Regions from separate parts of the Homo sapiens genome. Here all the other regions are reported to be linked to region 1. Evidence: microRNA targets listed by miRTarBase, many of them from high-throughput screens and not tested one by one. Region 1 holds a microRNA gene; each other region holds the end of a gene's coding sequence.

What was found. The annotated mature microRNA hsa-miR-6780a-5p reads UUGGGAGGGAAGACAGCUGGAGA and lies in region 1 at 1,708-1,730, shown strand. An mRNA with a match to its seed (bases 2 to 7 or 8) in the 3' UTR can be bound and repressed. Matches are read on the target gene's strand: a 7mer-m8 pairs with bases 2 to 8, a 7mer-A1 pairs with bases 2 to 7 and ends in A, and an 8mer does both.
Region 2: the mRNA of TRMU is a reported target of hsa-miR-6780a-5p. The part of its 3' UTR that is shown has no 7-base or 8-base seed match.
Region 3: the mRNA of ACAP2 is a reported target of hsa-miR-6780a-5p. Seed matches in the 3' UTR shown: 7mer-m8 at 1,647-1,653.

The regions. Positions count from the first base shown.
Region 1 is chr17:42,706,545-42,709,853 of GRCh38, reverse strand. MIR6780A (microRNA 6780a) reads left to right here and starts at 1,703; the gene lies at 1,703-1,770. It overlaps EZH1 (enhancer of zeste 1 polycomb repressive complex 2 subunit), which reads left to right. Exons shown (of 21, transcript NM_001991.5): 13 at 1-8; 14 at 938-978; 15 at 1,771-1,896.
Region 2 is chr22:46,356,489-46,359,488 of GRCh38, forward strand. TRMU (tRNA mitochondrial 2-thiouridylase) reads left to right here. Exons shown (of 11, transcript NM_018006.5): 11 at 354-852. The coding sequence ends at 518. Among named protein-coding and RNA genes, the nearest start is that of TRMU, 22 kb to the left of the region's middle.
Region 3 is chr3:195,276,492-195,279,491 of GRCh38, reverse strand. It overlaps ACAP2 (ArfGAP with coiled-coil, ankyrin repeat and PH domains 2), which reads left to right. Exons shown (of 23, transcript NM_012287.6): 23 at 64-3,000. The coding sequence ends at 164. Among named protein-coding and RNA genes, the nearest start is that of XXYLT1, 6.8 kb to the right of the region's middle.

The DNA of each region.
Region 1 (3,309 bases):
AAGCACAGGCAAGAAGGGTTGGACAAAGTGTTTTGTTTTACAGCCAGGCTGTTCCCTGTGCTCTGACCTCCCCTTGGAGTTCCCATCTGCCTCCCTCTTTAGCAACCGCACAGGCTGTGTGAGCCCATCAGCTTGGCATCACATGACTGAGAGCCAGCCTCCTGAGTGCTCCCTGAGGGTCTGTGCCTTAGATCAGCCCTCTTCTTGTCCCCCAGTGCTGTGGACCATAACTGTCTGTTTTTCTATTTAAGCTTCTGGCCAATAGGACATGAGCTGGCCTCATGGCTCCACCCTGAAGCCATTTCTCCTTGTTGGTTTTGTTACCACCTTACCCATTTCTCAACTCTGATCAGAGTTTATTTATTTGTTTGGTTTGTGTTGTTTTTCTGAGTTACATGATAGCCTTTACTTAGGTTGGAAGTTTTTAAAAAAATTCTGCACCCTGGCCCTGTTCCCTAGTGACTATCACCTATCAGAGGAAGGAGCTGACACCACTTCTAGATACAGAAGGAAATCCCTGTGGCTCCTCCCTTTCAGTTCTTTCAGAGAAGATTCCTGAAAGGCCTTCCCACCTCCCCATCTTGAAACTCCCCCATATCTCCACCTCCACAAAGACAAAGGGAGAGATTTGGAGAGAAACAATAGCTTTATAATAGACCAATAGGCTTGGGCTTTCTTTTATTTCTGTGTTGTGTTCTTTTATGTTATTTGCTTGTTTGGGAGGGGTTGTGTTTAAGTTTAACTCTTGTAGCACAGGCCAGCTGGATTTAGGATGGACTCTAGCTTCTGTGTACCAAAGTCGTCCTGTTGAGGGGTTTGGGAAGATACTCCCCAGTCATCAAACACAGTCCCTCAGAGCAAGTCACGTTGTCATTTACCTGCATTTGCAGAGCTCCCTAGGGCCGTGACTGAGACCTGTCCTTCCTGTCTTTTTCAGATTGTGGGCTGCACACTGCAGGAAGATTCAGCTGAAGAAAGGTAAGTTCTACCAGGGCATTCTTCAGCAGTTCAGCTGGAGGCCTCACTCTGTGGTCATCACCCTACCCCACCTCCAGCTGCACTTGTTGACCCTGTGCCACTTCCGCAGATTGCAGAATTCTCTGCAGCAACTGAGAACAGCTGAGCCTCTCACTGCAACTGAGAAGACCTCTTAGGAGGTAACATTAAGGGCCTTGTGGTCTGTGATTTTTCTTTTTTTTGAGATGGAGCCTCGCTCTGTCACCCAGGCTGGAGTGCAGTGGCACAATCTTGGCTCACTGCAACCTCCGCCTCCCGGGTTCAAGCAATTCTCCTGCCTCAGCTTCCCAAGTAGCTGGGATTACAGGCATGTACCACCATGCCTGGCTAATTTTTGTATTTTTAGTAGAGACGGGGTTTCACCATGTTGGCCAGGCTGGTCTCGAACTCCTGACCTCAAATGATCCACCTGCCTCGGCCTCGCAAAGTGCTGGGATTACAGGCGTGAGCCACTGTGCCTGGCCAGTATGTGACTTTTCTAGTGTGCCATTTGCTAGGTTCCAGACCTCATTTAATGTTTAGAATAGCTTCCCTGTTGTCCCAGACCATCTCCACACCCTCCCCACAAAGCAGATCACCCCACTGCAGCTTATGAACAACGGTCATCCCTGTCTTCTCACTTCAGGTGCTAAATGTGTGTCCAAGGAGATTGTTAGGACCAGCCTCCTCTGAATCAGGGCAGCTGGACACTTGGGAGGGAAGACAGCTGGAGAGTATGGTCACAGCAGCATCCTCCTCTGTTTTCTTTCCTAGATAACTCTTCCACACAAGTGTACAACTACCAACCCTGCGACCACCCAGACCGCCCCTGTGACAGCACCTGCCCCTGCATCATGACTCAGAATTTCTGTGAGAAGTTCTGCCAGTGCAACCCAGACTGTAAGTGTGCTACGTTTTCTGTATAGTCTACCAAAACAGTTGGCTCCAGTGTGCCCTAGGCTTGCCCCATTCCTGTGCCCTTTACTGCTTATGGCCTTCTGATATCCCCTTTGCTGTGTTTTAGGGATTCTACAAATGAAATAAGTGCATGAGATCTGGGAGAGTCGTTTCTGGAAAACGTTTAGGTTCATGATTCTAAAAGCAGCAATTACACAGAAATCAGATACTTTCCCAACTTTGTCTTCTAGGGGAGAATTAAGAAATGTGGGGGGCAGCAGGCGCAGTCACTCACGCCTGTAATCCCAGCACTTTGGGTAGGCGGATCACTTGAGGTCAGGAGTTCAAGACCAGCGTGGCCAACTTGGCGAAACCTCATCTCTACTAAAAATAAAAAAATTAGGCCAGGTGTGGTGGCTCACGCCTATAATCCCAGCACTTGGAAGGCCAAGTCGGGCAGATCACTTAAGGTCAGGACTCAAGACCAGCCTGGCCAACATGGTGAACCCCGTCTCTACTAAGAATACAAAAATTAGCCAGACATGGTGGTACATGCTTGTAGTCCCAGCTACTTGGGAGGCTGAGGCACAAGAACTGCTTGAACCCAGAGGGCAGAGGCTGCCAGTGAGCCAAGATTGTGCCACTGCACTCCAGCCTGGGCAACAGAGCAAGACTCTGTCTCAAAAAGAAAAGAAATGTGGGACTCTTTTTTTTTTTTTTAAGTTACAGCCCCAGTTTCCCTTTTCTGAATACTGTTTTAAAAAATTTTTTATTCAGATATTTTTTGTTTGTGATTCTGTGTATGTCTATTTTCATTTCATAGCTGGAGTTTTAATATCAGGTAGAAGACAGGGGCCTGGATGTCAGCAGAGACATCCGGGTACTTATCTTTTACTTCTTATCCCACCATGCCCTTCCCAACTCAAAGCTGAGCAGTTTGATGGCAGTCCCCACAGCTTGCAGAACTTGGTGCCCAGGCGGTTTTGCTGGAGGAAATACCTCCTAACCCATAGCAGATAGTGATCTTAGCCGCAGCAGAGAAGTGGTTGCGCTGGGTTGGGCAGTGGGTGGAGAAGGATGGCATAGAACGGATGCATTCTGTTCTCAAAATGATACTTGTTTTGATGGTGACAATTTACCAGTGAAACACACTGATTTCATATTCTCTGGGGTACTCTCCACCTCAGTGGGAGGGAGAGGATTGTTGGGGAATCTCTAGGGGACACTTCTTATTAGTATACCTGCTTTTTTTTTCATTTTTTAAATTTTTTTGAGACAGGATCTCAGCTCTGTTGCTCAGGCTGGAGAGAAGTGGCACAATTATGGCTCACTGCAGCCTCAACCTCCCTGGCTCAAGCCATTCATCCCCCTACATCCATCAAGCCTGGGACTACAGGCAGGTGTCACCACACATGG
Region 2 (3,000 bases), not on the chromosome of region 1:
GGGTGAGGGAAGCGGAAGCATCCTCTGGCTGCCACCATGCTCCTTCCTGTCACAGCTCCACATTCCCAAGGGGTGCAGAGACCTGCCAGTCCCTTGGAGTCCCAGGAGAGGCCCCTGTGACTGTCCCACTCAGGGAGAGGTACCCTGAAGACCCTCCCTAGTGAAGCCACTGGGTGCCCCAGGCCTCTCCTCTCCTGTTCAGCAGCAGCAGCAGCAGCAAAACCCTGCTCCCCTGGGAGCTCAGTGCCTGGTGCTCCGAGCACAGGCCAGGCCCCATAGGGGAGCACTCTGCCCCTGCCTGCCCTCGGCTGGCTCCCTGTGGCACCCCTGATGCCAGGGTCTCTCCCCTACAGTTTGCTGTGTTCTACAAGGGGGACGAGTGCCTGGGCAGCGGGAAGATCCTGCGGCTGGGGCCGTCTGCCTACACGCTCCAGAAGGGCCAGCGCAGAGCTGGGATGGCCACTGAGAGCCCCAGTGACAGCCCAGAAGATGGTCCAGGCCTGAGTCCCTTGCTCTGACAGAGATGGATCTGCTAGAAGGAACCTGGAGAGCAGGACCCATGGCTGGGCGGCTGGTGAGCAGTCCAGGTGCCCAAGGGCCAGCTTGCTGCTGCCCAAAGCAGAGGAAGCCGGGCTGGCTGAGGGTCCGAAAAGCCTGCAGGGGCCCGGCGAGCCCCAGGAAGAGCCTCAGCTCCAGGCTGGGGCTCTGGCTGCTGGAGCATCTGCTGGCTGGTGGGGTGGCCCGAGTTCCCCTTCACCGCCCCCAGGGAGGGTTTCCCACCTCAGAGTACACCGAGGGGACCTGCAGAGGGGGCTGTCGGGACAGCGTGGAATAAACATTATTTCAAGGACACATAGTCTGATCGCTGCTTCCACTGGGGCCCAGGGGGCTCCACATCACTGACTCCCTGGCGTGGAAAGGCAGGTGGACTGCAGACGCAGCCATGGCAACCTGCGTACCTCTCCCTGAGGTCCCAGCTGCTCCATCCTCTGCCCCCGTATCCCTGCTCCTGGACTCCAGAGTAGGTGCCTGCGATGCTGACCTGTGTCCTTGGCTCTCTTCCTCTTGCTGGGCTTGAGTCCTTCGTAGCGTGTTGTTGGTGCCTCAAGACAGGTTCCTGCGGGGACCAGAGGTGCATTCCCCTTCTCTGGGTGGGAAGGTTCCAGAGGCAGCCAGGTGGTGCGCAGAGGGCCTTGCCCAGATGCCCTGAGTTCTTGCTGGTGCGTCAGGGTGGGGGCTGCCATGGGGCCCACTGTCCATCCTGACCCCTCCTCCCATCTCCCCACTGGGTGTCCCCTGACCTGGGGCACCCTTCCTTCTAGCCTAGGCCCCCACGCAGCAGGGAGTGTCCTGAGGGTGAGGAGTGGGCCAGAACCCCGCAGGCCAGGTGAGGAAACGGGGCCTAAGGTGGAGCCGTGGCCCTTGCTGGGCTGGGGTGGGGAGGTGGGGGGTGTGGGGTCAGTGCTGCCCTGGCCAGGGGCAAGCCCCAGCTCTACCAGGCAGGCAGAGCGCTGGCCAGTGGGACCAGACAGGCCCCTGGGGATCCTCGGCCCAGCTGGGCATGGAGGCCGAGCTAAAGCGCCGCGTTTGTTCTGCCAGCTCAGCCCAGCACGGAGCCTCCCTGGGCTCAGGGGTTCCCTGATTTATGGCTGTGGTCGGGCCTCCAGCCTGGGAACTGAGGGTGGGAGAGCCCTTGTGGTGCCTACTGCTCTGCCCTAGGTGAACCCTCCCAGGTCACAGAAACATGAGTAGGTGGGAGGTGGGGCAGCCAGGCAGAAGGTGGTGTGGGCACCAGGCCAGCAGCGCTAAGGCTGCCCCCGCTCCAACCTCCAGCGGGCTCCACCGTCCTGCCAGCCTCAGGGCCTGTGCATCGGCCAGTGGAGGAAGCGGGGACACAAACCTGCCTCTGCCCCCTTGAGCCCCCAGGCTCCATGGTGACAGCTTCCTGACTGGCAGGGCTCCCCTCTCTAGCAGGCACAATGGCCTGCCCTGCCCCCTACAAGGCCACTGGCCAACTCTGGAGGGCTTTGGTGCGATGTCTCAGAGATTCAGCAGAAACTGTTGGCCAGGGGACCAAGTCTCCAGGCTGCTCTTCTGGCCTCTTTCCTACCCTCCCCAGCACCCAAGGCTGGCACACTCCAGAGGCTGTGCCCCTCAGATGACTTCTTGAAGACCTGGGGGCCTCCAGGAGCACAGGTAGCTAGGTAGCCCCTTCTGCCTGCAAGGGTACCCCCAGTGGCCTGGCCTTAGCCCCTTGCCACACCTATCCATGAAGACGATGGGGGAACATTTTCCAGGCCAAGAGCTGGGTGCCTGTACACCTACACCTACTCCCTGCTTGTGATACAAATGAAAGCAAAGCCCTCGCTCTCCTCTCCCCCTACGTTGTTCCCGGATAATCTCAGTGATACATGGGTCCTAGGATGATGCCCCCTCACCTCACACCTGGGAGGCTCCTTCCCGAGGCCCTGAGCTGGTTTCAAACACCCTGAGCCTGCCTTCTCCCCAGTCTCTGGCTCCCATGTTGCCCTGTGCCGGAGCCTTGCCTGGGCCCAAGCCCCTTCCTTCTTGGGGAGGTTTCTTTTTTTTTCTTTTCAAGAGACAGGGTCTTGCTCTGTTACCCAGGCTGGAGCGCAGTGGTGTGATCACAGCTCACTGCAGCCTTGACCTCCCAAGTAGCTGGGACAACAGGCATACACCACCACACCCAGCTAACTTTAATTTTGTTTTAGAAACAGTCTTGCTATGTTGTCTAGGCTGGTCTTGAGCTCCTGGCCTCAAGCGATCTTGCCTCAGCCTCCCAAAGCACTGGGACTACAGGCATGATCCACTGTGCTAAGTTTTAAAAACTGTAGAGATGGAGTCCTGCTGTGTTGCCCAGTCTGGTCTGGAACTCCCGCCTCAGCCAGCCACTGTTGGGATTACAGACATGGACCACTGCCTGACCCTCCTGGGGGTCTTAACAAGCCTTGCCTCCAGGCTGAGGAGCCCAAGGCGAGG
Region 3 (3,000 bases), not on the chromosome of region 1:
ATGAATGTTGTTTGATTAATACTTGTGTAAATGTTTAAAGTGTCTTTATTTTATTTCATGCAGGTGATGAAACTTATCAGGACATATTTCGTGATTTTTCCCAAATGGCATCCAATAATCCAGAGAAACTAAATCGTTTCCAGCAAGATTCACAGAAATTCTGAATTTTTTTAAAAATGGGAAAATATGAAATCTGGTGACCCCCTAATGTATACAGCTAAAAAATCACAATTTTTTTACTGCTTTAATTCTACTTAATTTTGGTAGATATTGAATGGCTTGGAAAAGAGGTACCCATTCATATATTTATAAATTAAAACATAGTTATCTAGTAGTAGGAGAGGAACCTAGTTTAGGACCTCTTTTATTAAAAAAGCCTATTTAAAGGGCTATTTCTGTAGACAGAAGTTCAGTCTAGATTTAGGCCATCTCTAGGTTACAAGATGATAGGAGGTTAGACAAAAGTGATTCTTTTGCCAATGGGTGGTGGCATTGATTTTTTTCCTCCATGCATCTTGCCCAGGATCACTCAGTCAAGCATGTCTTCATCAAGTGGAAGCCAACTGTCCTGCCTGCCTCAAGAATATGTGTTTTCTTTAGCTTCCCTGAGGCTTTTTGGTGGTTCAGAAATAGGTGTGTGTGTTGATGTGTTTTTGGTAACCTAGCTTTCATACACATAATATATGATTTATTAGAACTAGAGAATGTGTTTTCCCCGTTTGTTCATAAATGCGGTCGGTTATACTTCTTAGGTGACAGGTTATTGTCCAGTACTTTAATGTATGTATGTATAATGGCTGTACAGGTAGACCATAATTCAGTCCTTTAGATTTATTTTATGCAGCAAAAAGAAGCTCTTTTTTTTTTTTAATCACAAAAAAAAACCCCAGTTCAAAATGTGTAGTTCTTCATTGTTGGGTTGATTCCCCAAAACCTTGACAGATGTATCGATGGAATAAAAGTATGTTTTAAAGGTTACTTGAATGTCACAAAATTATGCCTTCATCAAAACTTTAAAGGAAAAATCAATTTATAAAATCATGTAGGCCATTTTTATATTTGAAATTTGTCCTTTTAAAGATAGTTTTGCTGTTGCTCCTAGTGAAAGAAAAATCTCTGTACAAAGGAGAAAAAGAACCCCACTTATTCTTAGTTAATACTAAAATATATAGCAATAAATTGCTGTTTATTTTTTCTACATCTATTTTGTGTACTTGTACACAGTGTACATTCTTTTAAATTATATCGTGTATATAGCTTTAGTATTCGGTTACATGATTCACAGACCCCTGAATTCCAAAATATTATGGATAAACATTACCATTTATATGCTACAAATTAGTCTGATTCCATCTTTGAAAATGTCTTAAAGTATAAAATAATTAATTTGCTTTTTTTTTTTTTTTTTCCCGAGATGGCGTCTTGCTGTGTCACCCAGGCTGGAGTGCAGTGGCACGATCTCAGCTCACTGCAGCCTCCTCCTCTTGGGTTCAAGCAATTCTCCTGCCTCAGCCTCCCGAGTAGCTGGGACTACAGGCACCCGCCACCATTCCGAGCTAATTTCTATATTTTTAGTAAAGACGGGTTTCACCATTTTGGCCAGGTTGGTCTCGAACTCCTGACCTCAGGTGATCAGCCTGCTTTAGCCTCCCAGAGTGCTGGGATTACAGGCGTGAGCCACCGCACCCAGCCTAATTTGCCTTTTGATTCCTTCCCATTGTTGTCAACAATTAAGTCTATTCTTCTTTTAGAAATTATATGTAAATGATATTATTGATACTCTTTCTAAATAAGAGGTTTTAAAATATATAAAAACTTTATGATCCAATTATAGATAAATTTTCTAACATTTCCCAGTCACTAGGGTTTTATAAGTTGATTAAACATCAAATCAGAATCTAGCCAAGCAGGAATTATATTGAAATAAGTTCACATTACAGAAAAGGTTCCATAATTTGGCCAAACTGCATGCATGTAATGCTTATTTAGTAATGGTCACTGTATGTTAGATAAGGATAAAAATATATTTGTGAATTACTTCTGAGGAAATGCTAACTTCCACAGCATTGTATTTAATTATAACAATAACAGGAACATTAAATCTTTATCTTTGCTGTTTCACCTCAAAGTCATAGATCATCTGGCTTTTTAGGCACCTTCACTAAAGGCAAAAATCTGATTTGTAGTTTTTATTAGCATGTACCTTGAAATTATTTGACCAAGAAGCTCAAAGAAAAGAAGTACGTTAAAGAAAAAGAAAAAACCTCACTTTTCCTTTATAGTGTCCCTTCCTGTTTTAATTCCTAAAGATCCTGACTTTTATCTGAGGAAGTCTAGGTAGTTTTCCTTTTGGATCTGGCCATTGGTGCGTGTTTCATTCAGATCACCTCTGGAATCTCTGTGGTTGTGAAGGCAATTCCTTATGAGACTCTTGCCTCCTGTGGCTTACGTGATGAATTGTTAATATGGCAGTAATTAATTAGTATCTACTTAAATTTAGTGGTCAGAAATGTATTTGAAGTGCCTTAAAGATGATCATGGTTCAGAATATCTTCAGAGAAAGCAAAATCTTTAATATTGCAGGGAGCCTAGCAATACAAGTACACATTTCTGTGGCTTGATTTCTTGAATATGCTGAGACCCAATTTGGACTACATTTGGCAGAAATGATGGAGTAAACAGCAAGGCTTTAAATTAAATTAATAGTTACAAGGTAGGTTGGCTCTTAGGTGAATTTAGCCATGTCAACTAATAGCTTTTATATGGTATGTAACAAATCTGAATTATGTTATGCTGTGAATTATTCAGTGCATTATAAGAAATCTTAGTTAATCATGCTTTTGGGCTTCATTAGTCAATGTGATTGGCCTTTTATTTTCTTTCCATAACTTATCTGCTATTATTAGTTTCTTATTCCTTATTATTAATCTGTTAGCTCATTATCATTAGCTTACTAACTTGAAAGTTAGATTAATATCAAAATAAGAATAGCAGCACTAT